4 separate regions of the Homo sapiens genome follow, and all the other regions are linked to region 3. Evidence: fine-mapped expression QTL. A gene starts in region 3. Each other region holds a variant in brackets. All regions are shown on one strand. Distances are between the middles of the regions.

Region 1 (7,892 bases), 100 kb before region 3:
CTGATGAACACCAATGCAAAAATCCTCAATAAAATATTGGCAAACTAAATCTAGCAGCACATCAAAAAGCTTATCCACCATGATCAAGTGGGCTTCATCCCTGGGATGCAAGGCTAGTTCAACATATGCAAATCAATAAACTTAATCCAGCATATAAACAGAATCAACAACAAAAACCACACGATTATCTCAATAGATGCAGAAAAGGCCTTTGACAAAATTCAACAACCCTTCATGCTAAAAACTCTCAATAAATTAGTTATTGATGGGACGTATCTCAAAGTAATAAGAGCTATCTATGACAAACCCACAGCCAATATCATACTGAATGGACAAAAACTGGAAGCATTCCCTTTGAAAACTGGCACAAGACAAGGATGCCCTCTCTCACCACTCCTATTCAACACAGTGTTGGAAGTTCTGGCCAGGGCAATCAGGCAGGAGAAGGAAATAAAGAGTATTCGATTAGGAAAAGAGGAAGTCAAATTGTCCCTGTTTGCAGATGACATGATTGTATATCTAGAAAACCCCATCATCTCAGCCCAAAATCTCTTTAAGCTGATAGGCAACCTCAGCAAAGTCTCAGGATACAAAATCAATGTGCAAAAATCACAAGCATTCTTATACACCAATAACAGACAAACAGAGCCAAATCATGAGTGAACTCCCATTCACAATTGCTTCAAAGAGAATAAAATACCTAGGAATCCAACTTACAAGGGATGTGAAGGACCTCTTCAAGGAGAACTACAAACCACTGCTCAATGAAATAAAAGAAGATACAAACAAATGGAAGAACATTCCATGCTCATGGGTAGGAAGAATCAATATCATGAAAATGGCCATACTGCCCAAGGTAATTTATAGATACAATGCCATCCCCATCAAGCTACAAATGACTTTCTTCACAGAATTGGAAAAAACTACTTTAAAGTTCACATGGAACCGAAAAAGAGCCCGCATTGCCAAGTCAATTCTATGCCAAAAGAACAAAGCTGGAGGCATCACACTACCTGACTTCAAACTATACTACAAGGCTACAGTAACCAAAACAGCATGATACTGGTACCAAAACAGAGATATAGACCAATGGAACAGAACAGAGCCCTCAGAAATAATGCCACATATCTACAACCATCTGATCTTTGACAAACCTGAGAAAAACAAGAAATGGGGAAAGGATTCCCTATTTAATAAATGGTGCTGGGAAAACTGGCTAGCCATATATAGAAAGCTGAAACTGGATCCCTTCCTTACACCTTATACAAAAATTAATTCAAGATGCATTAAAGACTTAAATGTTAGACCTAAAACCATAAAAACCCTAGAAGAAAACCTAGGCAATACCATTCAGGACATAGGCATGGGCAAGGACTTCATGTCTAAAACATTAAAAGCAATGGCAACAAAAGCCAAACTTGACAAATGGGATCTAATTAAAGAGCTTCTGTACAGCAAAAGAAACTACCATCAGAGTGAATAGGCAGCCTACAGAATGGGAGAAAATTTTTGCAATCTACTCATCTGACAAAGGGCTAATATCCAGAATCTACAATGAACTCAAACAAATTTACAAGAAAATATCAAACAACCCCATCAAAAAGTGGTTCGTGAAGGATATGAACAGACACTTCTCAAAAGAAGACATTTATGCAGCCAAAAGACACATGAGAAAATGCTCATCATGATTGGCCATCAGAGAAATGCAAATCAAAACCACAATGAGATACCATCTCACACCAGTTAGAATGGTGATCATTAAAAAGTCAGGAAACAACAGGTGCTGGAGAGGATGTGGAGAAATAGGAACACTTTTACGCTGTTGGTGGGACTGTAAACTAGTTCAACCATTGTGGAAGTCAGTGTGGCGATTCCTCAGGGATCTAGAACTAGAAATACCATTTGACCCAACAATCCCATTATTGGGTATATATCCAAAGGATTATAAAACATGCTGCTATAAAGACACATGCACACGTATGTTTATTGTGGCCCTATTCACAATAGCAAAGACTTGGAACCAACCCAAATGTCCAACAATGATAGACTGGATTAAGACAATGTGGCACATATACACCAGGGAATACTATGCAGCTATAAAAAATGATGAGTTCATGTCCTTTGTAGGGACATGGATGACGCTGGAAACCATCATTCTCAGCAAACTATCGCAAGGACAAAAAACCAAACACTGCATGTTCTTACTCATAGGTGGAATTGAACAATGAGAACACATAGACACAGGAAGTGGAACATCACACTCTGGGGCCTGTTGTGGGGTGGGGGGGAGGGGGAAGGGATAGCATTAGGAGATATACCTAATGTTAAATGATGAGTTAATGGGTGCAGCACACCAACATGGCACATGTATACATATGTAACAAACCCGCACGTTGTGCACATGTACCCTAAAAGTATAATTTAAAATTAAAATAAAATAAAATAAAATTATAATTTATCCTTTTTGCTGGTATACAGGAATACAATGGACTTTTAAATTTCTTAATTAAATTATAATTCATACCATACCATTCACATTTTTAAACTGTACAATTCAGTGGGTTTTTAGTATATTCCCAAGGTTGTGCAACAGTCATCATATAATTCCAGAACACTGTCATCACCATACATACAAAAAACCCACCATATAACTATTATTAGTCATTCCTCATTTATTCCTGCCCTCAACCCCTGACAACCACTAATCTACTTTATGTCTCTATAGATTTACCTGTTCTAGACACTTCATATAAATTGAACCATACAATATCTGGTCTTCTGTGACTAGCTTCTATCTAGCATGTTTTCAAGGCTCATCCGTGCTGTAGCATGCATCAGTAGTTTTTCTTTTTGGCTGAATAATATTCCATTGTATGGATATACCACATTTTGCTTATCTATTCATCAGTTGATAGATATTTGGGTTGTTTCCAGTTTGGGCTATTATAAATAATGCAGCTATATACATTCATGTCTAAGTTTTTGTATGAATATGTTTTCAATTCTTTTGGATATACACCTAGGAGTACAATTGCTGTATCATATGTTAATTCTATGTTAAATTTCTTGAGGAAATACCAACTGTTTTTCAAAGCAGTGCACAATTTTACATTCCCACTAGCAGTGTATGAGGGTTCCAGTTTCTCCATATCCTTATCAACACATGTTATTGTCCATCATTTTGACTAAAGCCACCCTACTGAGTGGGAAGTGGTATCTTACTGTGGTTTTGGTTTGCATTTCTGCATTGACTAACAATGTAGAGCATCTTTTCATATGTGTGTTGACCATTTGTATCACTTCTTTGGAAAATGTCTATGCAGATCCCTTGACTAGTTTTATTTTTATTTTATTTTTGAGACAAAGTCTCACTCTGTCACCCAGGTTGGAGTGCAGTGGCATGATCTTGGCTCACTGCAACCTCTACCTCCTGAGTTCAAGCAATTCTTCCACCTCACCTTCCACTCAATCCTGAGTAGGTGGGATTACAGGCGTGCACCAACACGCCTGGCTAATTTTTGTATTTTTAGTAGAGATGGGGTTTCACCATATTGGCCAGGGTGGTCTTGAACTCCTGACCTCAAGTGATCTACCCGCCTCGGCCTCCCAAAGTGTTGGGATTACAGATGTGAGCCACTGTGCCCGGCCCCTTGACTAGTTTTAATTGGGCTATTTGTCTTTTTACTGTTGAAGTGTAAGATTTCTTTATATATACTCAATACAAGTTAGTTATCAGATATATATGATTTGCAAGTATTTTCTCCCATTCCGTGGGTTGTCTTTTCACTTTCTGAATAGTGTCCTCTGAAGCACAAAAGTTTTCATCTTAAGTCCAATTCATCTATTTTTTCTTTGGTTACTTGAGCTTTATATGTCATACCTAAGAAACTGTTGCCTTGTACAAGGTAATGAATGAAGATATACACCTATGTTTTCTTTTAAGAGTTTTATAGGTTTTTGTTTGTTTGTTTGTTTTTGAGACAGAGTTTCGCTCTTGTTGCCCAGGCTGGAGTGCAATGGAGCGATCTTGGCTCACTGCAACCTCCGCCTCCTGGGTTCAAGCGATTCTCTTGCCTCACCCTCCTGAGTAGCTGGGATTACAGGGGCCCATCACCACAGCCGGCTA[ATT/A]TTTTTTTTTTTTTTTGTATTTTTAGTAGAGACAGAGTTTCACTATGTTGGCCAAGCTGGTCTTGAACTCTTGACCTCAGGTGATCCACCCACCTCAGCCTCCCAAAGTGCTGGGATTACTGGTGTTAGCCACTGCACCTGGCGAGTTTTATAGTTTTAAGTTTTACCTTTAGGTCTTTGATTCATTTTGAGTTAATTTTTGTATATGGTATGAGGTAGGAGTCCAAATTCATCCTTTTGCATGTGTCTATGCAGTTGCCCAGCCCTATTACTTGAAAAATTATTTTCAAATTCTTTTACCATCAAATTGTTTTGGCATCCTTGTCAAAAATAAACTGGCAGAGAGGTAAAGGTTTATTTCTACACTCTCAGTTGTATTCCATTGATCTTTATGTCTATTATTATGACAGCACCACCTTGTCTTAATCACTGCAGCTTTGTAACAAGTTTTGAAACCAAGAATTGTGAGTCCTCTACCTTCCTTCTTTTTCTTTTCAAGGTTGGCTTAGCTATTCTGGGTCCCTTGTATTTCCACGTGAATTTTAGGATCAGCCTGTGAATTTCTGCAAAAACTACAGCTAGGATTTTGATACAGACTTTGTTGAATTTATGAATTAATATGAGAAGTGCTGCCATCTTAACAATATTGACTTTCAATCCACGAACATAAAATATTTTTCAATTTATTTAGAACTTCTTTAATTTATTTCAATGGTGTTTTGTAGTTTTCAGTGTTCACTTCTTACACTTTTTTGTTCAATTTATTCCTAAGTATTTTATTCTTTTTGATGCTATTGTACAATTGTTTTTTATATTGACTGCATTCAGTGATATTTCTAAACATATTAATTCCAACAGCATGTCTATAGAGTCTTTTGGATTTTCTCTATAAATAATCATGTTGCTTAGAAATAATGACAATTTATTTATTTCTTTTTTTTTCTTTTTTTTGAGACAAGGTCTCACTCTGTTGCCCAGGCTGGAGTGGAGTGGTGTAATCATAGCTCACTGTAACTTCGAACACCTGGACTCAAGTGATCTTCCCATTTCAGCCTCCAGAGGAGCTGGGTCTACAGGCAAGCACCACCACACCTGGCTACTTTTTTCTATTTTTGTAAAGATGGAGTTTCACACTGTTGCCCAGGCTTGTCTTGAACTCCTGGACTCAAGTGATCCTCCTACCTCGGCCTCCCAAAGTTCTGGGATTATAGGTATGAGCCACTGCACCCAGCCCCCTTTTTGCTTTTTTAAAGTATTATTATATTACTAAGACTTCCAGCACAATGTCGAATAGAAATAATAACACAGAGCATTCTTGTAACATTCTCCAACTCAATAGGAAAGTGTTTAATATTTTACTATCGAGTATGACATTTGCTATAGTTTTTGTAGATATTCTTTATATTTAAGAAGTTCCAGGCCAGGCGTGGTGGCTCACCCTGTAATCCCAGCACTTTGGGAGGCCAAGGCAGGCAGATTACCTGAGGTTGGGAGTTCAAGACCAGCCTGACCAACACGGAGAAATCCCATCTCTACTAAAAATACAAAATTAGCTGGGCGTGGTGGTGCATGCCTGTAATCCCAGCACTCGGGAGGCTGAGACAGGAGAATAGCTTGAACCTGGGAGGTGGAGATTATGGTGAGCCGAGATTGCACCATTGCACTCTAGCCTGGGCAACAAGGGTGAAACTCTGTCTCAAAAACAAAAACAAAACAAAACAAAAGAAGTTCCCTTCTATTTCTAGTTTGCTAAGAGTTTTTTTAAATCATAAATGAGTACTGAATTTTGTCAAACTTTTTTGACACCTATCAAGAGGATCAAATCATTTTCTCCTTTTTCTCTGTTAACATAGTGAATTATATTGATCTACTTTTGAATGGTAAGCCTCTCCTGCATACATGCAATAAACCATACTTAATTGTGCTTTTAAAAAATATGGCCAAATTCAGCTTGTGAATATTTCATTAAAGACTTTTGGATCTATGTTCATGAGATATGTTGCTAAATAATTTCCCTTTCTTTTTAATGTCCTTGTCAGGTTTTGACACACTGGCCTCATTAAAAAAACAAAACATTAGAAAATATTCTCTTTTTTTCTATTCTCTGGAAAAGTTTAGGTAAGTTTGATATTATTTCTTCTTAATTAAGAAAAATTAACAGTGAAGTCATCCATGCCTCAAGTTTTCTTTGTGGAAAAATTTTTACTAACAATTGCTTCAATTTCATTACTAGTATCAGACTACTCAGATTTTATTTTCTTCTGTCAGTTTTGGTAAGCTTTGCTTCTCAATAAATATTCTCATTTTAACCCAAACTATGTCAAATTTATCATTATAAAATTGTTAATGTCTTGTTTTTGTGCTTTTGAATATCTTCAGTAACTTTTTGATATACAATGTAATATCCTCTTCTTCATTCTTGATATTGTTACTTGTGTTTTCTTTCTTTCTCTTGATCAGTCTTCATTCATAGAGGGTTCTTAATTTTATTTATCTTTTCTAAGAACCAAATCTCAGCTTTGTTGATTTTTCTCTGTTGTATATTTACATCCTATGTATCGCTGATTTCTGTTTTTCTCTTGTTACATTATTATGTTTGATATGGTATACTCTTGAGATGCAAGCTTGTATTTTTTTGCTTTGCATTTTATTTCCACATATATTTTAAACTCTGTAAGTCATTTCAATTACTGTTTTACATAGTCTACTTATATTTAGTCATATAGTTATCCTTTCTACTCTTCTTCATTCCCCCCAGCATGTCCATGTTTTCATCTGTGATCATTTTCCTCTAAGGAAATCCCTTTAGTATTTATTTTATTTTATTTTTTATTTTGAGACAGGGTCTCGCTCTGTTACCCAGGCTGGAGTGCAGTAGTGTGATCTCAGCTCACTGCAGCCTCAACTTCCCAGGGTCAAATGATCCTCCCACCTCAGCCTCCCAAGTAGCTGGGACCACTGGTGCACATCACCACACTCACTAATTTTTTTTAACTTTTTGTAGAGACAGGGTTTCACCACATTGCCTAGGCTGGTCTTGAACTCCTGGGCTCAAGCGATCTGCCCATCTTGGCCTCCCAAAGTGCTGGGATTATAGGCATGAGCCACTAAGCCTGGCCTTAGTATTCATTTTAATTCAGGCTGATAAATATACTAGTAGTGATAAAGTCATTTAGTTATTTTCTTTCTCTTTCTTCCTCTTTCTTTCTCTTCTTTCTCTTCTTTCTTTTTTCACTTTCATCATGAAGGATATTTTCCACTGGGCAGAAACCTAGGTTGGTAGCATTTTGAATATGACATTCCATTGTCTTCTGTTTTCCATCATTATTGTTGAGAAGTTAGCTGTCAGTTTCACTGTTGTTATTTTGAAGGTAATGCATAAATGATGTGTCTAATTTTAACATTTTCAGCAGTTTTGCTACAATATGTCCAGGTGTGGTTTTCCCTGTATTTGCCTCTGTTTGGGGTTTACCAAAATTCTAAATCTGTTGGTTGGTGTCTTTTATTATTTTGAAATGGACTCTGCCATTGTCTCTTTGAATGTTAATTTTGTCCCATTCTCTCTCTACTCTGCTTCTGGGACTTTAATTATGCATATGTTAGACCTTTTTTTGAGTATTATATTCCTTTGTGTTCTTTCCATTCTCTTATCTCTGGGCTTCAATTTAGATATTTTCTACTGATATGTCTCAAAGCCCACAAATCCTATATTTGGTTATATTGAATCTAATGTTAAGCCTACCCAACTAGCTCTTCATTTCAGA
Region 2 (7,892 bases), 49 kb before region 3:
AATTTAAAAAAAAAAAAAAACAGTCAAAATCAAAAAGACCTTTAACAGCATACCCATTCATAAACCCATCCCCTCATCAGCCAAGACAAGCTTAGACAGAATGAAGGAAGTATGTCCCAGTTGGTGAGGCTTGTCTTACTTTTATTCCTCCACTAAAGGTAAATTTTCTCTGCTATATTACTTTTAAGCCTGATACAATTATGACATGCTAATCAAAAAATACACAATTTTTTTGTTTTTATCATGTTTTTAAGTATAAAAAGCAAAGTTATTGTCACTTACTTGAGGTCGACCAGCTCTACCAATCATCTGTAGAATATCTGTTTCACTGTACTCTTCAAACAGTCCTCCAGCATAATGCATTGTAGATTTTATAACTACTAGGTGAGCAGGCAAATTTACTCCCATAGCTAAAGTACTGGTAGTAACTGCATCAGATTAAGACATAGTAATTTTGAGCCATTTAACTTTGTTGCTTCAGGAACATTTTTTAATAAAAGACATTCTTATAAATGTAATAAAAACTCATACATAAGAAATTTAGAAAAGAAAAAAGAGCATTACAATCTAAAATAGTAACACACCTTAAATCCAAAAACCTATTAAATTCTTGTTTTTCAAATTACACCATGTTCAACAATATGATAAAGAACTAAACACTACCAAAGAATTTACTGTAGCATCTACATGCATAGGTAACCACTTAATTTTATATTCTCAGAAGAAAAGCAGAAACAAGCAGAACACTTGCGCTTTTTCCTTTTTTCCTCTTAAAAATAATTTTCCAAAATATTTTATAGTATCCACGAGAAATATGTTTTACTTACAAAGAACTGGTAAATCTCCAACAGTAAAAGCTCCCTCAACTACTTTTCTATCTGACAGCTCCATACCAGCATGATGATAAGCAGCACCATCTTTTAAGATATCTGTAATAGAAATATATCAGCTGTTACTATTAATATTTCATCAATAATTGGCACCTTTCATCTATATGTGAAAATGCTATTCAAAAATTATCTCTAAACCTACCTCTCAGTTTTGAATCTCTTACGGAATATGCATACTTCTGTAACCTATTTAAAAATACCATAAAATTATTGAGTTACTCCCAGTAACATTAGAGAACTCTGAAACAGTTTATTATTTTAAAACTTAGAGATATCAAAAAATTTTCACAATATCATTATCTGAAAACTATTTTAAGAAGTAGAAAATATCCAACTTTCATATTCAAAAGTCCCTAAACTTATGAGCTACAATATTAAAGCTCACTTTTAAACCAAGAATTTGGAAAACTCACTTTCCCCAAGAAAACAACATAATTGGTGATTAACAAGTCAGTATAAAAGTCTACTCTCATAATTTGCCTAAAAAAAATTATAAGAAGTAACCATTTCTAAAACTACTATATTACTAGTAAATAAGCAAAAAAAAAAAAAAAAAAAACATGGAAATAAACCATAGTGTTTCCAGTGCTCTGAGACATGGCATTTAAAAAAACTAGGTTAGGAGGAAGCAAGATGGTCAACTAGAGATGCCTAATGCTCATCTTCCCCACAAAAAAGAGCAAAACAATGAATAAACAACTAACTACATTTTGAACAGAATGACTAAAGGAAAGTGCCTCTCTATAAATTTGAAAGAGGTGATTATTCCACTAGTTGTGCAGACATCAATAGAGGGACACAGGAAACATGAAAAAAAAAAAAAACCAACCAAAAAACCAGGAAATACACCACCAACAAAGGAACGCAATAATTCTCCAGTAACTGATTCCAAAAAACAGAAATTTGTAAACTGTCTGAAAAGGAGTTCAAAGTAATGATCCTAAGAAAACTCACTGAGATACAAGAGAATACAGATAGACAGGTCAATGAAATCAGGAAAACAATTCATTATCTGCACAAGAAAGTTATTCAAAAAGAACCAAACAGAAATCTTGGAGCTAAAGAATTAAATGAATGAAATCAAAAATAGAGAGCTTCAACAGCAAACCAAAACAAGCAGAAGAAAGAATCTGTGAAATGAAGTTAGGTTTCTGAAATAGCCTAGTCAGAGGGAAAAAAAAGAAAGAGAAAAGAACAAAAAAGAGTGAACAAAGCCTATAGGACTTATGGGACACCATTAAGCAAACAAGTATTCATATTATGGAGGTTCCAGAAGGAGAAGAATGAGGAAAAGGCATAGAAAGTTTATTTAATAAAATAATTGCTGAAAACTTCCCAAGTCTTGGGAGAGACATGGACATCCAGTTCCATGAATCTCAAAATCACCAAACACGTTCAAACCCAAAAAGGTCCTCACTGAGGCACATTATAACCAAAATGTGGAAAGTCAAAGACAAAGAGAGAATTTTAAAAGTAGCAAGAGAAAAGTGTCAAGTGATTTATAGGGGAATCTCCATTAGACTATCAGTGTTTCTCAGCAGAAACCTTGCAGGCCAGGAGAGCATGAGATGATACATTCAAAGTCCTGAAAGAAGACAATATTGCCAGTAAACAATACTATACAAAGCAAAGCTGTTCATCAGAAATGAGGAGAAATAAAGTCTCAGCCAGATAAATAAAAGCTGAAGAAATTCACCACTAGACCTGCCTTATAAGAAATGATTAAAGCAGTTCTTCTACCAGATACAAAAGAATGATAATTAGTATCATGAAAACATATGAAAGCATAAAACACACTGGTAGAGGTAAATACACAGTCAAATTCAGAATGTGCCACCACTGTAATGGTGGTGTGCAAATCTTTCAAATCTCTATTATGAAGGTGAAAAATCAAAATAGTCAAAAATACAGCTACAATGAGTTGTTAAGGAATACTGAATATAAAAAGATGTAAACTGTGTCAACAAACATAAATTGTGGGGGGAGGGCAAAAATCTAGAGTAGTTGTATGTGACTGAAGTTCAGTTTAAAATAGTCTATTATAACTCTAAGATATTTTACGTAAGCCTTGTGGTAACTGCAAAGCAAGAAGCTACAGAAGATACAGATGAGAAAGAGAAAGGAATCAAAGCTTAGCGCTACAGAAAAACAACAAATCACAAACTTATACAACAAGAGGAAGAAAGGAACAACTGATCTACCAAGCAACCAGAAAACAATTAAAATGGCAGGAGTAAGTCCTTATCTATCAATAATAACCCTGAAGGCAAATGAATTAAATTCTCCAATCAAGACATATAGTGTCTAAATTGATAGAAGAAAAAAAAAAAACCAAGATCCAACTACATGCTGCCTACCAGAGATCCATCTTAGCTATAAGGACACCGGCTGAAAGTTAAGGGGTAAAAGAAAATATTCTACATAAATAGTAACCAAAAGAGAGCAGGGTGGCTATTCTTACATCAGTTAAAATGACTTTAAGTCAAAAACTGTTACAAGAGGCAAAGAAGGTCATAATTTAACGACAAAGGGGTCAATTCATCAAGAGCACATAAGAATTGTAAATATATAAGCACCCAACACTGAAGCATAACATATATATAAAACATTATTAAAGGACATGAAGAGAGAAATAGACAACAATACAATAATAGGAGGGGTCTTCAATATCCCACTTTCAATAATGATAGATTAACCAGACCGAAAGTTAACAAAGAAATACTGGACTTGAATTGTACTTTGAGTCAAATGGACCTAACAGACAAATATAGAACTTTGCATTCAATAGCAGCAGAATGTATACGCTTCTCTAGAGCATACGAAACATTCTAC[A/G]GGACAGATCATACATTAAGCCACAAAACTAGATTTAACTATTTTTAATTAATCTAAATTCAAGACGATTGAAATCATATGTAGTATCATTTCTGACCACAACAATATGAAACTAGAAATCAATAACAGGAAAAATCTTGAAAAAAATCACAAGTATGTGGAAACTAAACAACATGCTCCTAAACAATCAATGGTCAAAGAAACCAAAAGGGAAATTAAAAAATATCTTGAGACAAGTAACAATGGAAAGACAACACACCAAAACCTATGAGATGCAGCAAAAGTGGTTCTAAGAGGAATTTTTTTTTTTTTTTTGAGACAGAGTTTCACTCTTGTTGCCTAGGCTGGAGTGCAATGGCATGATCTCGGCTCACTGCAACCTATGCCTCCCAGGTTCAAGCGATTCTCCTGCCTCAGCCTCCTGAGTAGCTGGGATTACAGGCATGTACCACCACGCCTGGCTAATTTTGTATTTTTAGTAGAGACATGGTTTCCCCATGTTGGTCAGGCTGGTCTTGAACTCAAGAGGAAATTTTATGCAATAAGTGCCTATATTAAAAAAAGAAGATACTAAATAGACAGCCTAACATTATACCTACAGGAGCTAGCAAAAGAACAAACTAAATGCAAAGTTAGCAGAAGAAAGGAAATAATAAAGATCAGAACAGAAATAAATCAAATAGAGATCCACCAAAAAAACATAGAAAATGATCAATAAAACCAAGACTTGGTTCTTTGAAAAAATAAAATAAACAAATATCTAGCTAGACTAAGGAAAAAAAAAGAAGAAACAAATAAAATAAAAAATGAAACTGGAGAAATCACCAACAGATGCCTCAGAAATCAAAGAGATCATAAGGGGCTATTATGAACAATTATATATTAATACTAACAAATTGGATAACCTACAGGAAATGGACAAACTCCTAGAAAAATACAACCTGCTAAGTTTGAATCAGGAAGAAATAGAAAGCTTAAACAGACCAATAACACATAATGAGATTGAAGTAGTAATGAAGAATCTTCCAACAAGGAAAAGCCCAGAACCAGACAGCATCACAACTGAATTCTACCAAACATTCAAAGAAGAATTACCACCAATACTTCATAAACTATTCCAAAAAATACAGCTACAGGGAATACTTCCAAACATATTTTGTGAGGCTACTATCACGTTGATACCTAGGCCACATAAAGACACTACAAGAAAACTATAGGCTAGTATCTCTGATGAATATTGATGCAAAAATCCTCAATAAAATATATGCAAACTGAATTCAACAACACATCAAAAAGGATTATACACCATGGCCAAGTGGATTTATTCCTGGCAAGCAAGGCTGGTTTAATATATGCCAATCAACCACTGTGATATATCACATTAACAGAATGAAAGATAAAAAACACAAGACCATCTCAATTGGTGCAGAAAAAGCATTTGACAGCAAGTTCAACATCCTTTCTTGATAAAATCTCTTAACACGCAGGCATATAAGGAAAACTTCTCAACTAATGTAACAAAGGCCATTTATGAAAAGCCCACAGCCAACATCATAATCAATGGGGAACAACTGAAAGCTTTTCCACCAAGATACAGTACAAGGCAGGGATGCCCACTCTCACTGCTTCTATTCAACACAGTACTGGAAGTACTACCAAGAGCAATCAGATAAGAAAAAAATAAAAGGAATTCAAATTTGAAAGGAAGAAGTAAAACTATCTTTATTTGCAGACAACATTATCTTACATGTAAAAAAACCTCAAAGATTCATTAAAAAACTGTTAGAACTAATAATTCAGTAAAGTTGCAGGATTCAAAATCCATATACAGAGATTAGTAGCATTTTTAAACAAAAATAATAATTTAACTGAAAAAGAAATCTAGAAAACAATCCCAGTTATGACAGCATAAAAAAATAAAATGCTTAGGAATAAGTTTAATTAAGGAGGTAAAAGATCTGTACACTGAAAGCTATCAAACAATGGTGACAGAAATCCAAGACAAAAATAAATGGAAAGATATCCTGTGTTGATGGATTGAAAGAATTAATATTGTTAAAATGTCCATACTACCCAAAGAAGTACAGATTCAATACAATCCCTATCAAAATTCCAATGGCATCCTTCACAGAAATAGAAGAAAAAATCATAAAATTAACTTTGGGATGCCGAGATGGGTGGATCACAAGGTCAGGAGATCAAGACTATCCTGGCTAACATGGTGAAACCCCATCTCTACTAAAAATACAAATGGTGTGAACCTGGGAGGCGGACCTTGCAGTGAGCCGAGATCGCGCCACTGCACTCCAGCCTGGGCAACAGAGCAAGACTCCATCTCAAAAAAAAAATTTTTTTTCATAAAATTAGTATGGAACCACAATAAACCCTGGATAGTGACAGCAAAACTGAGAAGGAAAAGAAAGTTGGAGCTACACACTTTCTGATTTAAAATTATACTACAAAGCTGGACTAACCAAAACAATATAGTACTTGCATAAAAACAGAAACACAGACCAATGGAACAGAACAGAGAGCCCAGAAATAAGTCCAAACATACACAGTCAACTAATTTTCCATTAGGGCACCAAAAAAAATGGGGAAACAATAGTTTCTTCTATAAATGAGGCTGGAAAAACAATTTCCATATCCAAAAGAATAAAATTGCACCCTTATACCATACACAAAAATCAACTCAAAAATTGACAAAAGATCTAAATGTAAGACCTGAAATCATAAAACTCCCAGAAGAGAACATAGGGCAAAGCACCTTGATATTGGCCTTGGCAATGCAGCACACCTGCTCTACCAAAAAAACAGTCAGACTGTTTCTTTGGGGGGGTCCCTGATCCTGTTCCACTGACTGGGTGAGACATCCCAACTGGGGTTTCCAGCCACCTCCTAAAGGTACATGCAGACTGGCAACAGGTCAGTACTCCCTGGGGATGGAGCTTCTAGAGGAAGTAGCTGGCTGTCATCTTTGCTGTTTCACAGTCTTCACTGGTGATATTTCCAGGTACGGGAGAAACTGAGGCAACTAGGGTTTGGAGCAGATCCCCAGCAAACTGCGGCAGCTCTACAGTAGAGTGGCCTGTTAAAAGCAAAACAAACAGAAAACACCACCACCAACAACAAAAAAGATCCCATAAAAACCTCATTCAAAGGTCAGCAACATCAAAGATCAAAGGTAGATAAGCCCACAAAGATGAGAAAGAGTCAACGTAAAAACACTGAAAACTGAAAAAGCCATAGTGTCTCTTCTCCTAATGACTGTAACATTTCTCCAGCTAAGAACTGGGCTGGAGGCTGAGATGGCTGAATCGACAGAAGTAGGCTACAGAAGGTGGGTAATAACAAACTTCACTGAGCTAAAGGAGCATGTTATAACCTAATGCAAAAAAAGGTAAGAACCATGGTAAAACAGTACAGGAGCTGATAGCCAGAACAGCCAGTTTAGAGAGGAACATAACTGATCTGATGGAGGTGAGAAACACAACACGAGAACTTCACAATGCAATCGCAAGTATCAATAACAGAATAGACCAAATGGAGGAAAGAATCTCTGAGCTAGAAGATTATCTTTCTGAAATAAGACAGGCAGACAAGAATACAAAAAAAAAAAAAAAGGAAGAAGAAGAATGAAAAGGAATGAACAAAACCTCCAAGAAATATGGGATTAAGTAAAGAAACCAAACTTACAACTGACTGGTACCTGAAAGAAACAGGGAGAACAAAACCACACTGGAAAACATACTTCAAGAGAACTTCCAGGAGAACTTCCCCAACCTAGCAAGACAGCCCAGCATTCAAATTCAGGAAATGCAGAGAACCCCAGGAAGATACTCCACACGAACATCAACCTGAAAAGACATAATCATCAGATTCTCCAACGTTGAAATGAAAGAGAAATGTTAAGGGCAGCCAGAGAGAAAGTCAGGTCACCTACAAAGGGAAACTCATCAAACTAACAGTGGATCTCTCAGCAGAAAACCTACAAGCCAGAAGAGACTGGGAGCCAATATTCAACATTCTTAAAGAAAAAAATTTCTGACCCAGAATTTCCTATCTGGCCAAACAAAGCTTCATAAGCAAAGGAGAAATAAGGTTCTTTTCAGAGACAGCAAATGCTGAGGGAAGTCGCCAGGCCTGCCTTGCAAGAGTTCCTGAAGGAAG
Region 3 (7,892 bases):
TTACAGGCGTGAGCCACTGCGCCTGGCCCAAATCTATTCTATTTTTAAAATTATAACATTTAAGATGTTAAACTTCAGTTACTCCCCTATACTACTGGTAAGAGAATTCCATGTTTACCAAATATGTAACTGAAATATCGTTCTGTTGATTCCTCATTTTTATTTGTATATTTACCAGAGAGAAAGCTAAAACTCACCCAAATTCAAAAAACCCTAAAGTAATATACTATGCTATCAATCTTTAAGGGAGACTTACTTTTCAACTTCATCTGGTTTTTCAAAAAACAAATTTTCCAAAGAAAACAGGCAATCATTTGATTTCAGCATTGTTGAAAACTGGACTTTGTCATAAATCTACAAAATATGGAAAAAGTAGTTTATATTTTATTTATAAAGATGTAAAAAAATATTTCTGTATAATCACTAATTTTCCACAGTCTCCTGTAAAATATAACCACAGACTATCCTTCCAGCTTCATCGTCTGCAACTTCCTTCAAAGCACCTCAATATTCACATACATTATTCTCTGTTTTCCATTCATTCATGGATTCACACTTGCTCCCTTCTCTTCATAGTGCTCCAATGCTTGGAATGTGTTTTCTGCCATTCTCCAACTGGCAAATTCCTAACCATCCTTCAAGTTATAGGTCAAATGTCATTTCTTCTTCAAAGGCTTTTCTGAATTTGTCTTCTTCCTCAAGGCAGAATTAATCAGTCTTCTTGGGCTCTTAATACTTTGTTCACACCATTATTTTCAAGTTAGGACAGCACATTTTATTGTGAATGTGTGCACCTCTAACAATATACTATGTACATATGCAGGGATTTGCTTCAAAATAAAGGGGAGAGATGAAGGAGTATTGAAATAATATTGACAATGAGTTGATCAAAGCTAAAGCTATGTAATAGGTACATGGGGTTCATTATAATATTTTTTCATAGGTTTGAACTTTTTCAAAATAAAAAAATTACAAGTTTAACATACATATGCATATTTATTTATATGAGTTAATGCATATACTACACACGTTTACATTCTTTTTTAAAAGATAATTTTTGCACTCAGAGATATTATCTAAACATAAAGGATAAAAACATTCAGCATTGGCCACCTTTGAACATAACAAAAATCTGGGGCTGAACAAAGATGCAAATGTGATTAAAAAAAAAAACTAGTCTCTAGATACATACATTGCTCCCATTAGAATTATTTTTCCCTGCATATCCTATTTTTTTCTAAATTCTTAAACATCATAGAACATTCTATATGACAAACCATAAAATCAGACGAACAAACTGTAAAACATAAATCACATTTCTGTTTCTTCTGTTTTAGTTAATACATTGTAAATTTGTCCTCAAGATAGAAACTACAATCAAAGAAATTCTATTAATGCCATCTAGTGGAGAAATACGCATTACCAAGTCAGATTATGTCTCTCCAATTTTGAATCCTCCTTGATGTGGGGATGAGATACAAGTGGGAGTGATATGGGGAAGGGAGAATGTTTCCACATACAACACTTGACAAATGCTACTGTATGAGAACTAAACCTGTATATATACTTCAGGGCTGTTCTTACTGATATAGAATATTGTGGGGTTTTTCACTGTTTTCGTTATTGGGTTCTTCCCCCTTCCATCTGTTTAATATAATTGCCCTCTTCATTTTTCTCTATCTATTAATCAGTTACCAACAAAAACAAGTAGTAAAAATGAAACAAACTAGTGTGGTTCTATAAATGTCTAAAACAATTTGACTATACGAAAAATAGAAGCCTAGGATAATAGGGCAGGAGGTAGAGGGAGTCATTCAGAAATATGCGAAGTCTTTAACAGCTTTAAGTAAACAATTTCAGAACTTGAAAACAATTATCTGAAAAAGTATAAATGAAAATGTTAATCATGTTTTTATATTGCCCAAAAAGTAACAAATAAAATGTTCCCTTTCTAGTTTTAGGAAAACTATGTTCAAACAAAAGAAACTTTTCCTAAAATAAACCTCACCAGACCAGTTTCATATGGCTTTGCTACCTCAGAATTTAAGTCAAAAATCTTAAGGCTAACATTTATACACTTGAATACTTTCTTCCTAAAGCAACTACAAATAGACAACAAAACTACAAATTTAAAACATTTGGGAAGAAAAGCGTTGCATAAACTGACAAAAACCTCCTATACAAACAGCAAATATTTTCAAAAGAATTTTTGATTTCTAGTTCTAGCATACAAGAATATAACTTGTTTGGGTTCAGAATAAAAATATCATGTACATATTTTAGTTCTTATATACTCCTGTGAAAAAACACCCCTTATCTAAAACTGCATCCTCTCATTCCGCATTATTTTTCTTCATAGCATGAACTGATAACTAACATTATAGTATATGCTTAGTTGTTTATTATGTTTCTCCCTTTAGAGCAAGCAGGGACTTTTTGCTCATTAATGTGTTCCAATAACCCAGAATAGTGCCTGGCACACAGTAAATGGTCCATAAGAATGCATTGTGGAATAAATGCATTAGCAAGAACCAGTTTATAAAAATAGTGTCAAATAAAAATAATTTTCTGTTAATTTAGAAACTTAAAATTTGAGCCCCAATCTTCAACGTTCAGTTAAAAAATGTGAAATTTTTTTCTAGTTCAGGATTTATGTAAATAAAATCATGAAGGTTCTAAAAGATGATGAATTTGGCACTTTCATTATGTAAATCTTTTTTTAAAAAAGAAACACAGGTCCTAAAAGGGACCTTGCTACAGTTCAGTATGAGTTTGTGATGTGAGGGGATGCTATTTTAAATTAATTAAAGTTCTAGGTTTAGATTCAGATTTTTTAAGTTCCTATTATTTATTATTAAAGTTTTAGTTTCAGCACGTGGCACAAAATTAGATTGCCAAACACAATAAACAATATCATCCCAGGTAGTTTTAAGTGTCTGCTCTGCTATAATCACTGTTAAAATACTTAAGCTATTTTTGAGTCTACATAATTTGCGGTGCCGACCTTCTCTAGTTATATTAATGACAATCTCTAGTTAAATATTAATACAACTAGATACAATTAATCTTTAGTTATATTAATGACAATTCACCATTTTGTCTTCTGTAATCTTTACTTATTGTATAAAATTATTGTATACAATTATTGTATAAACTTATTGTATAAAATTGCAGGCCTATTACTTCTTACAATTTTTACTCAGAAACATACTCCTTATTTTAAAAGTACAGAAACTCAGATAAAAATTATTGATTTGCTAGAAATTTTTGTGAGTTAAGGAAGAAGTAGGGACCAACATTTACGGGAATAACCGACCGTCACAAATAACTGCAGAGAATCTGACAAAGAAGGAAAAATCAACGGGAACAAATTACTCCGAGGCTCGGCCTGGGAAAGGACCATACAATTGTCGGAGCCCCAGATCTCACCCCCTCTCCCCAGGCACCAACAGGGCTGGCTGGAAGGGTCCGGCTGGGGACCGAATCAGCACCTAAAGCAAAATAACAGCTCTGTGGATTTCCTAAGGAGAATATCCTAAATCCAAGGCAGAGGCCTTAGGGCCCCGAGAGTGGCACAAGAACGGGGCGCTGGGGCGCGTCACTCCACCCCCCGGGTCCCGTTTCCTCCCACCGCTGTGAAACCCGCGGCTCAGACAGATGGGTACGTCCCCCCCAGCGCTCGCTCAGGGGGCGCCACACACCGGAACACAAGACACAGGAACCGAACACCAATCAGCCGACTTTAGGGGCGGGCCGGACGCCCAGCCGGTCCCACCTCGCGGGGAGCTGGGCCCGCCCTGCGCCCGAGCGCGCCGCAGGCCTCACCGCTTTCTGACTGGAAATGCGGCTGAGGCGCTGGCGCGGGCCGGCGGCCTGGAGACGCCTGGTGACCAACAACTCGCCGCGCCCGTCCGCTGCCTGCCCGGCAGACGGCTCTAGAGATCGACCGCTGCCCGGACGGCTCGGCTGGGTCCCCACTTCCCCGCGGGCGTCGGGCCCCCGTCCCCACCTTCCCCGCGGGCGTCCGGGCCCCTCTCCTCACCTCCCTGCGGACAGCTCCTAGGCCAGTCGAGCGCCGATTTATCAGCCCCTCTGAGGACCGCCAAGCCTGGCTAAGCCGAGCTCCAAGCAATGGATCGCCCAAGCCCCCAACCTCTCCCTTCCTACCTTTTTTTCTCCGAAAGTTTATAACTGGTTTTGAATATATCTCTTGCAGTTTACTGTGTCTATTCTCTTTAAATACAGCTCCTAATCCTGGGTTCTAAGGGTCTACTAAATGGTACCCTTTCCCTAAGCTAACCTGCTTCTCTACCCCCACAACCACCACTCCACAAACATACCCCAACCTGCCTTTCTCATCAAAGTTAGCCAGGCCTCAGCTCTGGGACTTCCGGTCTCTTCGTACCTAAAAAGTGTTTTACCTATATTATTTATAAAATATCACAGTGGCACTCATGAGGTCGGTATTACTGGGGAACTTGATTCAGAAATAAAGTTAAATTTCAGAAATAAATATTCTAAAACACAATGATATTTAAATGTGTTTAGCCAACATGAATTTATAAAAACAGGGCAATAATGTGTTCTTAGGCTGTAAACATGAACAAACTATAAATTATCCTTTTAAGTTTCTTTAGAATTGTCCTCTGAAGATTTGGCAGGGAATGTTTTGTAGATGATAAAATAGCAACGAATCAATGATGCTTTTCTTACAGAGACATTTATCTTTCCTTTGGAAACCCCCACCTGTGACATCTAGGGCCAACCTACTGCTGTCTGACTGCCCTATTCCTGTTCTCTTTTTTCTTGCAGTTCTACTGTTCATTAGCTATATGACCTTGGAAAAGACCCAACCTTTAAGTCTTAATTCTGCATCCTCAGTGATACTCATAAGCTCTAACTCCTAGATACTGCTGCAAGGGTTAAATAAAATAATATTTGCAGTAGTCCTACCACACAGTAAATGCTCATGAATATTAATTTCTTTCACCTTCTCTGAAATGTAAAATTATTCCAGTAATTGGGTGAGCCAGTTATTTGGATACTGATAAAATAACAAGTCTTTGTCTCTTGGAGAAAATAACATTTTGACTGCATAAACTATTCTTAATAGAAAGGTTGAATTATCATTCCTCTCAAAAATACTGGAGAGGAAAGTTACTTTCCATAGACTGCATAGAGGAAAATAACGAAACAGTGCATTTGTTATAGTGAACCCCTCAATGTGTTGAAATTCATACATTGAATTCTAACCCCCGATGTGATGATATTTGAACGTGGGACTTTTGTGAGGTAATTAACTCAAAAGGGTAGAGCCTTCATGAGTAGGATTGTGCCCTTTTAAGAGGCCAGAGAGTTAGCTCGCTCTTTTCCTACCATGTGAGGATACAGGAGGACGGTATCTGCAAGCCAGGAAGGAGGCCCTCGCCAAATACCGGATCTGCCTGCACTGTGATCTTGGACTTCTCAGGCACCAAAATTGTGACAAATGTTTGTTGTTTAAGCCACCCAGCCTATGGTAATTTGTTATAGCAGCTTGAACTAAGATAGGGTTTGAGTGATAGAATTGTAGAATTCAGCAACAGGCAGGTACAGGGGAGTCTTACTGTCAAAGCACACAGTAGCAAATGGCCACCATGTTCATAAACAAAAACATTCATTCATTCACTCACTCATTTATTCAAGAATGCATGTGGAATCTATAGAGCCTTACTTTCTCTTAAAATAATGTAATAAAAATGTCAAAGCTGCAGTTTTTAAAAGGAAGCCTCAGGACAGTGATAAAGTTACTAAAAATCCCATTTTGGGGGGAGGGATTACCATGGTTTTTAGTAATGTTGCCACATTTCTCAAGAAAACATTTTAATCCTAAAGATTTAATTTTACAACCAGTGCAACAATGTCATAAGCAATCCTCCAAATTGAATAACATAACTAACATTTGAAATATAGTCTTCCCGGTCAACTTCTGGCATGACTGCATAAAGAGCTTTGCTACCTCACTTCTCAGTGAAACTGGTGAAAATTCTAGAAAAATGACTCAGACCCTCTGGAAATGATCCTAAGGGCAAACAGCAAAAGAAGAAACATCTTTTCAAGAAAGAGATACAAAAATTTGGTAAGAAAGGCAAGGCTCTGTGGTATTTTATCCAAGACTCCCAAGTTCCAGCTTAGCAAGACAGGCTCCATTCTAGACAGCTGCAGCCAAGAATACAGAGCTCTCTCTGCACCCAGCTCCCACTAGAAGGCGCGCTTTCTTTCTTTCATTGTGGTAAAACATGCGTAATATTTATAATTTTAACCATATATAAGTGTATAATTCAGGGACATTAAATACACTCATAGTGTTGTATAACCATCACTCTTATCCATACCCAAAACTTTTTCATTATCCCCAACAAGAAATTTGTGCCCATTCAGGGAGGGGAACTTCACACACTGGGGCCCGTTGGGGGGTGAGGGGCTGGGGGAAGGATAGCATTGGGAGAAATACTTAATGTAAATGACGAGTTGATGGGTGCAGCAAACCGACATGGCACATGTATATCTATGTAACAAACCTGCACGTTGTGCACATGTACCCCAAAACTTAAAGTATAAGAAAAAAAAAAAGAAATTTCTGCCCATTAAACAGGAACTCCTTCTTTTCCCCTTTCCCTAATTCCTGGTAACCTCTATTCTACTTTCTATTTCTATGAGTTTACCTATCCTAAGTACTTCATATAAGTGGGATCATACAATATTTGTTCTTCTATTTCTGGATTATTCACTTAGCATAATGTTTTCAATGTTCATCCATGTTGTAGCATGGATCAGAATTTTACTCCTTTTTAAGGCTCAATAATATTCTATTGTATTTATATACCACATTTTGTTTATCCATTTGTAATCCTGGCTAAGGGACATTTGAGTTGTTTCCACATTTCCACCTTTTGGCTATTGTGAATAATGCTTCTATGAACATTCGTGTGTAAATATCTCCGTTCAAGTCCCTGCTTTCAATTCCTTTGGATATGTACCTAGGAGTGGAATTGCTGGGACATATGGTAATGCTATTACAGCCAATGCCATGAGTTCTAGCTGATGTATCCAACATAACCAAAATTTTCTTCACTTTGTAACATCCACATCTTTTACACCCTGATTAGTCAGTAGAAATTGATATTGAAAAATTAGTCTCAGGCTGGGCAACACAGCGAGACTTCATCTCTACCAAAATTTTAAAAACTAACCAGGTGTGGTGGTGTGTGCCTGTAGTCCTAGCTGCTTGGCAGGCTGAGGCAGGAGAATGGCTTGAACCAAGGAATTCCAGGCTGCAGTGAGCTGTGATCCCACTACTGCACTCCAACCTGGGCAATAGAGCAAGATCCTGTATCTAAAAAAGCAAGAAAGAAAAAAGAAAAATTAGTGTTGATGGCTCTAGAGAAGCAGGAACCAAGAAATGTTGAGGTTTCAAGACTATTTTTCTGCAGATGACAGCCAGAAATGTGTTGTGTTTTTTATTGTCAGATTTGGACAAGAAACAGTGAAGAGATCATTTGGGAAGAATCTGAGAATTACAAAATTAATTTCTGAGAAAAAAACAGAAAAAAAGGAAATAAAGGTAGTTTGATATGATGGGATTCTCAGGAGGAAAGAAAAGTTTAGGGAGTTAGGGCCAATTCAGTAGATACTTAAATAACAAAAGGAAGACTGAATTAAGCACAAACCAAAAAAAAAAAATCTTTCTGTTCTTTCTTTCTTTTTCTTTGTTTCTCTTTTCTTTCTTTCTTTCTCTTTTCTCTCTTCCTCCCTTCCTCCCCTTCCTTCCTTCCCTCCCTCCCTCCCTTCTTTTTTCCCCTTCCTTCCTTTCTTTCCCTCTTTCTTTCTCTTTCTTTTCCTTCTTTCTTTCC
Region 4 (7,892 bases), 32 kb before region 3:
ATCAACGAGACAGAACATTAACAAGGATATCCAGGAACTGAACTCAGCACTGCACCAACCAGACCTAATAGACATCTACAGAACTCTCCACCCCAAATAAACAGAATATACATTCTTTTCAGCACCACACCACACCTATTCCAAAATTGACCACATAGTTGGAAGTAAAGCACTCCTCAGCAAATGTAAAAGAACAGAAATTATAACAAACTGTCTCTCAGACCACAGTGCAATCACACTAGAACTCAGGATTAAGAAACTCACTCAAAACCGCTCAACTACATGGAAACTGAACAACCTGAATGACTACTGGGTACATAATGAAATGAAGGCAGAAATAAAGATGTTCTTTGAAACCAATGAGAACAAAGACACAATGTAACAATCTCTGGGACACATTCAAAACAGTGTGTAGAGGGAAATTTATAGCACTAAATGCCCACAAGAGAAAGCAGGAAAGATAAAAATTGACACCCTAACATCACAATTAAAAGAACTAGGGAAGCAAGAGCAAACACATTCAAAAGCTAGCAGAAGGCAAGAAATAACTAAGATCAGAGCAGAACTGAAGGAAATAGAGACACAAAAAACCCTTCCAAAAATCAATGAATCCAGGAACTGGTTTTTTGAGAAGATCAACAAAATTGATAAACCACTAGCAAGACTAATAAAGAAGAAAAGAGAGAAGAATCAAATAGACGCAATAAAAAATGATAAAGGGGATATAGCCACCGATCCCACAGAAATACAAACTACCATCAGAGAATACTATAAACACCTCTACGCAAATAAACTAGAAAATCTAGAAGAAATGGATAAATTCCTCAACACATACACCCTCCCAAGACTAACCCAGGAGAAGTTGAATCTCTGAATAGACCAATAACAGGCTCTAAAATTGAGGCAATAATTAATAGCTTACCAACCAAAAAAAGTCCAGGACCAGATGGATTCACAGCCGAATTCTACCAGAGGTACAAGGAGGAGTTGTTACCATTCCTTCTGAAACTATTCCAATCAATAGAAAAAGAGGGAATCCTCCCTAACGCATTTTATGAGGCCAGCATCATCCTGATACCAAAGCCTGGCAGAGACACAACAAAAAAAGAGAATTTTAGACCAATATCCCTGATGAACATCGATGCAAAAATCCTCAATAAAATACTGGCAAACCAAATCCAGCAGCACATCAAAAAGCTTGTCCACCATGATCAAGTGGGCTTCATCCCTGGGATGCAAGCCTGGTTCAACACACGAAAATCAATACACGTAATCCAGCATATAAACAGAACCAAAGACAAAAACCACATGATTATCTCAATAGATGCAGAAAAGGCCTTTGACAAAATTCAACAACCCTTCATGCTAAAAACTCTCAATAAATTAGGTATTGATTGGATGTATCTCAAAATAATAAGAGCTATCTATGACAAACCCACAGCCAATATCATACTGAATGGGCAAAAACTGGAAGCATTCCCTTTGAAAACTGGCACAAGATAGGGATGCCCTCTCTCACCACTCCTATTCAACATAGTGTTGGAAGTTCTGGCCAGGGCAATCAGGCAGGAGAAAGAAATAAAGGGTATTCAATTAGGAAAAGAGGAAGTCAAATTGTCCCTGTTTGCAGAAGACATGATTGTATATTTAGAAAACCCCATGTTCCCAGCGCAAAATCTCCTTAAGCTGATAGATAACTTCAGCAAAGTCTCAGGATACAAAATCAATGTACAAAAATCACAAGCATTCTTATACACCAATAACAGACAAACAGAGAGCCAAATCATGAGTGAACTCCCATTCACAATTGCTTCAAAGAGAATAAAATACTTAGGAATCCAACTTACAAGGGATGTGAAGGACCTCTTCAAGGAGAACTACAAACCACTGCTCAAGGAAATAAAAGAGGATACAAACAAATGGAAGAACATTCCATGCTCATGGGTAGGAAGAATCAATATCCTGAAAATGGCCATACTGCCCAAGGTAATTTATAGATTCAATGCCATCCCCATCAAGCTACAAATGACTTTCTTCACAGAATTGGAAAAAACTACTTTAAAGTTCACATGGAACCGAAAAAGAGCCCGCATTGCCAAGTCAATTCTATGCCAAAAGAACAAAGCTGGAGGCATCACACTACCTGACTTCAAACTATACTACAAGGCTACAGTAACCAAAACAGCATGATACTGGTACCAAAACAGAGATATAGACCAATGGAACAGAACAGAGCCCTCAGAAATAATGCCACATATCTACAACCATCTGATCTTTGACAAACCTGAGAAAAACAAGAAATGGGGAAAGGATTCCCTATTTAATAAATGGTGCTGGGAAAACTGGCTAGCCATATATAGAAAGCTGAAACTGGATCCCTTCCTTACACCTTATACAAAAATTAATTCAAGATGCATTAAAGACTTAAATGTTAGACCTAAAACCATAAAAACCCTAGAAGAAAACCTAGGCAATACCATTCAGGACATAGGCATGGGCAAGGACTTCATGTCTAAAACATTAAAAGCAATGGCAACAAAAGCCAAACTTGACAAATGGGATCTAATTAAAGAGCTTCTGTACAGCAAAAGAAACTACCATCAGAGTGAATAGGCAGCCTACAGAATGGGAGAAAATTTTTGCCATCTACTCATCTGACAAAGGGCTAATATCCAGAATCTACAATGAACTCAAACAAATTTACAAGAAAAAAACAAACAACCCCAACAAAAAGTGGGTGAAGGATATGAACAGACACTTCTCAAAAGAAGACATTTATGCAGCCAACAGACACATGAAAAAATGCTCATCATCACTGGCCATCAGAGAAATGAAAATCAAAACCACAATGAGATACCATCTCACACCAGTTAGAATGGTGATCATTAAAAAGTCAGGAAACAACAGGTGCTGGAGAGGATGTGGAGAAATAGGAACACTTTTACACTGTTGGTGGGACTGTAAACTAGTTCAACCATTGTGGAAGTCATTGTGGCGATTCCTCGGGGATCTACAACTAGAAATACCATTTGATCCAGCCATCCCATTACTGGGTATATACCCAAAGGATTACAAATCATGCTGCTATAAAGGCACATGTGCACGTGTGTTTATTGAGGCACTATTCACAATAGCAAAGACTTGGAACCAACCCAAATGTCCAACAATGATAGACTGGATTAAGAAAATGTGGCACATGTACACCATGGAATACTATGCAGCCATAAAAAATGATGAGTTATGTCCTTTGTAGGGACATGGATGAACCTGGAAACTATCATTCGCAGCAAACTATCGCAAGGACAAAAAACCAAACACCACATGTTCTCATTCATAGGTGGGAATTGAACAATGAGAACACATGGACACAGGAAGGGGAACATCACACACTGGGGCCTGTTGTGGGTGGGGTGAATGGGGAGGGATAGCATTAGGAGATATCCCTAATGTTAAATGATGAGTTAATGGGTGCAGCACACCAACACCACATGTATACATATGTAACAAAACTGCACGTTGTGCACATGTACCCTAAAACTTAAAGTATAATAAAAAAAAGAAAATTCATAAGAATGCTATAAAACTACATGCAGTTGGTATGAAAATTATTAATCATTTTTTGATGGTATTCTTATTAGCAATAATTTCACTTTCTCCCTTTCTTTCTACCTCTCAGACTTCATCTACTTTTTGACTGTGAGCTCTTTGTTGGTTTTTCTCATTCTGTCTTGCTCTCTACTGTTTCTTATTGCTTAATCTTGCTTTGTTGACGTGTATTATAAAAGAACTACTCTACATGCTTCACACCCTAGAGATTTTTTTTCATATGGTAGTAACTAAGAAGATCAAGTTAAATCCTTTAAATGGAAGGAAAAGTGTCAAAATAGTATCTAGAGGGTGAATAAGTGGCTATGTTTGTAATTCTTTAATAGACTATCTTTATAGTCTACCTTTTTAGTGGAT[T/TAA]AAAAAAAAACAAAGAATGTAAAGAAGACTAAATTGGCTCCTCTAGGCTTGCTACATATCTTTGGTTGACAAGCAACCAGAGGTGGTGGCAAAGGAACAGACTGGTAATTGGAAAGCTGATCTGACCCAAAGCGGAGAGAAGTATATTCCCCCACCATACAAAATTAGGCAGAAAAAATAAGTATCTGCTCATATCCACATGTCCAATTTTAGTCTGAGGTCTACCACTAAACATATTTACTGATTTCCAGAAGTTATTAACAATAATAATAAGTTAATGTTCATTACATAGTAATCATGTGCTAGCACTCTGCTGAGACCTTCTGCTATAATTTGGATGCTGTCCATTTAAATCTCATGCTAAATTGTAATCTCCAGTATTGAAGGTGAGGCCTGGTAGGAGGTGAATGGATCATGGGGGCAGATCCTCATGGCTTGGTGCTATTCTTACAATAGTGAGTGAGTTTTTGTGACATCTAGTTGCTTAAAAGTGTATGGTACCCCCCGACCCCTACTCCTGCTCTCACCATGTGATACACCAACTCATCCTTTGCCTTCTGCCATGACTGTAAGCAGCCCAAGGCCTCACCAGAAGCCGAGCAGATGTGGTGCCATGTTTCTTGTACAGCCTGCAAAACTGTGAGCCAATTAAACCTCCCTTCTTTATAAATTACCCAGGCTCAGAAATTTCTTTATATCAATGCAAGAATGACCTAATACACCTGCTAAGATTGAGTGGTAAGCAGGATGAACATGAGTCCCCCTTTCCTCAAGAAGTTGATAATCTAATTAATAGAAAAGATATTAAAATAACTATTAAACAAAAGGATATTATAATTATAGTAAGTGCTATGAAATCAAGTACAGGTTGCTTATAAAAGTAAATACAGGGAAACTGATGGCTATGGAAAACTGATATTAAAGTTTAGACATGAAGGATAAATAGGAGTTAGGTGAAAACCATTCCAGTAAAAGCAAGCACCATGCAAGACAATGCTGTACAGAGTAACAGTTTGGTGTATTCACAGAACACAGAGGCTAATACAGCTTGACCGTGATGATTAAAGGGGGAGAATGGTCATGAAAAGTCTGGAGAATTGGCTAGGCATCACATTACATGGGCTACTGCAGGCTACACTAAGGATTTAGCATTTAATCCCCAGAACAATAAGAATCTATTAAAGGGTTTTAGGCAGGAAACTGCCATTTAGATTTGCAATCTTACACAATCTATGCTATGTAGAGAATAAAGCTGGATAAGAGAGTGTGTGTGTAGTGATTAAAGAAAAGGATACAGCCTAGGCAAGAGATTACTAGTGACTTGAATTAGGGAAGTGGCAGTGTTGATGGAGACAAAATGACATATTTGAGATATATTTAGAAGTAAGAATAAACAGGACTTCGTAATTGATTGTGGGGTATAAGGTGAAGAAGATATCAATCATAGTTTTCTGCTATGAGTAACTAAGGAGATAATGTATAATTAAGATGGGGAACACTGGAGAAGGAGCTGGTCTGAGAGCAAGAACCAAGGTTCTATTTGGTACATAGTGAGTTTGAGATAACTGTTGGTAGACATACAACTGGATTCAGTTACACAGATGGACTATAGGCCTGGAGCTCAGTAAGGAAGTCTGGGCCGAAGGCATAAATGTGGGAATTCATAGACATGCATAAATATTATCTGAACTTCATGTGAGTACTTACAAACACCTAAGAGTGTGGCATTAGAAAGAATGAACCTCAGGTATACTCACTCGAATGTCAACATTTAAGAGTTGGGTAGAAGAGGTGAAAAGGGGACTGAGAACGAACAGCCTGCAAAGGAGGAAGAAAATCAGTAGAAATGATCATGGAAGCACAGAGTCCAGAGTGTTTAAGTAAGGTGGAAGTGGCCAAATATGATAGAGAGTCCTTAAAGATTAATTCGCAAGATCAGCTTTAGTGAAAGACTATAAAAGATGCTGGATTGAAATTAGGTTAAAAAAAATAGATAGTAGTATGGATAATCTTTATCATTCAAGAAATCTGGATCACCCCTGTACGAAGATTCACTATCTCACTTAATCCTCAAAATTATCATTATCCTTATTTTATAGATGAGGACACTGAGGTTTACCCCAAGGTTATGGGACAAGCCTAATTTTCTCATGTCATCTAGATGAGCCCTAAAAGTCCTTCTACTTCCATGAAAAAATAAAATACTATACCTCTGTTTCTGTTCCACAGTCATAATAAATTTAGCATCTTTCACAAGAACAGAAGCAGCCTGTTGCACACCCTTCCTTGTTGCACAAAACTGAAAATAAATTCATAACGTTTGTATTAATCATGTTAAAAACTGAATATACTAAAAAATAAGCTATCAACAATCCATACCACAAGTGTGGGTTTCTGATCAGAGTACATTTGTATAACACTGGCAATTTTGTAGTTGAGGGTTAAATCAAACTTAAACTCAGTTTGGTTACTACTGCAGGGAAATCCAAGGACCACTTTCTGAAGTTTCACTGGTCTATGGCTCTCATCCATTTTCAGACACACAGCTGGTCTTTCACCATCTGAAAGCCATTCTGCAATCTTTGAAACACAAAAATATGTGCATTAAAATTTTCTTCTAGTAAAGTTTTATTGCTAAAAACAACCCAATTACAAAGCACTTTAAGGTCAAGCTATAAAAGTATTTAATCAAGTATGCTGTCTTTTTCAATATTACATATTCCATTAATATTATTCTGTTGATATAGTGGTCAACACTACCAATAGTAGTATTTCAAGATTATACCCACTTTTCACCATGGTAAACTTCCAATTAATTATTATTATTTTGTTTTATTTTCCTTCATAAGAATCCAAAGAAAAATTATCAATTTTGTCATAGAGGCCAAATTTCTCACTATTATTTTAACTTCTTTGCTATTTTTGAAAACTACGCCTCAAAATGGCTGACATCTCTTTTGTGTTGTCCTAAATATTAGATAAATAGCAGCAAATTAATAGTTGGTTTAGGTTGGCAAGGGTTGACAAGTTTTTAAGCAAACAACAAACACTTGAGAGATGCCAGTGCCAAAAGCAAACTTCAGACTCAAGCTAGATTCTGGAACTGTGGTAAGCAATCCTTATCTTTACATAGCCCAGTTAATAATCAGGCTCCATGCTCTGCTATGAAATTGACTGTTGTTTTGACAGGTAGAAAACATTAAAATAATCTCAAGGTTATCATGAGTAGGGATAAGATCACATAAGAATTTACAGACAGAGGGGAGCAGAAGGCCAAGAATAAAAACCTTAATTTAGGGAAAAACGGAGGAAGAAGATCTGACAAAAGAGACAGAAACAGCATTCACACAAGTAGTGTTTATCACAAAGGGGAAAAGTTTCAAGAATTAGACAGTACTAGTACATAATAATTGCTTACAAATAAGTTAAGAAAAATTTAGTATTCCAATGTGAAAAAAAGGCAAATGACATAACCTGGCAAGTTTTAAAAAAAGAACTCAAAGTAGTTGATAAATATATTTAAAATTTTACCTTAGTAGAAATCAAAGAAGTAAAAAATTTTTAAATGAGATACTACACTCAACAATAAATCCTATAAATATTTAAAAATAATAATAGCAATAATAATTCCATTATTATACTATCCAGTGTTAGGATACAGGAAAATAGCCTCTGGTAGAAGTGTAAATGAATATAACATTTATTGAAAGAAGCACTTCTTTAGAGTTTTATATATCCTTTGATTCAGTTAATTCATTCTAGAAGTTCATCCTAAGGAAATAATCATGGATGTTTCAGATACATTAATTTCACTGTTTACAATAGCAAAAATTGGAAATAACTTAATCTTCCATTGTTATAGTGTTTGATAAATAAATTACAATAAAACCACAAAAATAGTATTGAAGAATATTTAATGATATAAAAAT

Alleles and levels. Positions count from the first base shown, and alleles are read on the strand shown. Sizes are in standard deviations (SD) of each study's normalised expression. Not every link is listed here.
For the expression in prefrontal cortex of the gene that starts at base 4,082 in region 3, allele A in region 2 goes with a higher level than allele G (moderate effect, 0.55 SD a copy in GTEx).
For the expression in subcutaneous fat of the gene that starts at base 4,082 in region 3, allele T in region 4 goes with a higher level than allele TAA (moderate effect, 0.69 SD a copy in FUSION).

What was found. PIP is the estimated chance that this variant, and not a neighbour inherited with it, causes the effect.
Region 1: its variant is the best candidate, but not a certain one, in a credible set for the expression of HFM1 in subcutaneous fat (FUSION, PIP 0.62).
Region 2: its variant is the best candidate, but not a certain one, in a credible set for the expression of HFM1 in prefrontal cortex (GTEx, PIP 0.84).
Region 4: its variant is the best candidate, but not a certain one, in a credible set for the expression of HFM1 in subcutaneous fat (FUSION, PIP 0.64).

The regions. Positions count from the first base shown.
Region 1 is chr1:91,300,507-91,308,398 of GRCh38, forward strand. All of the region lies in intron 30 of HFM1 (helicase for meiosis 1), which reads right to left. Among named protein-coding and RNA genes, the nearest start is that of HFM1, 100 kb to the right of the region's middle. The variant ATT/A (reference allele first, on the strand shown) is at 4,127.
Region 2 is chr1:91,352,224-91,360,115 of GRCh38, forward strand. HFM1 (helicase for meiosis 1) reads right to left here. Exons shown (of 39, transcript NM_001017975.6): 14 at 1,033-1,076; 15 at 828-929; 16 at 283-428. Among named protein-coding and RNA genes, the nearest start is that of HFM1, 49 kb to the right of the region's middle. The variant A/G (reference allele first, on the strand shown) is at 3,723.
Region 3 is chr1:91,400,756-91,408,647 of GRCh38, forward strand. HFM1 (helicase for meiosis 1) reads right to left here and starts at 4,082. Exons shown (of 39, transcript NM_001017975.6): 1 at 4,043-4,082; 2 at 257-354. The coding sequence starts at 327. RefSeq lists a silencer at 3,677-4,056.
Region 4 is chr1:91,369,185-91,377,076 of GRCh38, forward strand. It overlaps HFM1 (helicase for meiosis 1), which reads right to left. Exons shown (of 39, transcript NM_001017975.6): 12 at 6,343-6,543; 13 at 6,174-6,262. Among named protein-coding and RNA genes, the nearest start is that of HFM1, 32 kb to the right of the region's middle. The variant T/TAA (reference allele first, on the strand shown) is at 3,964.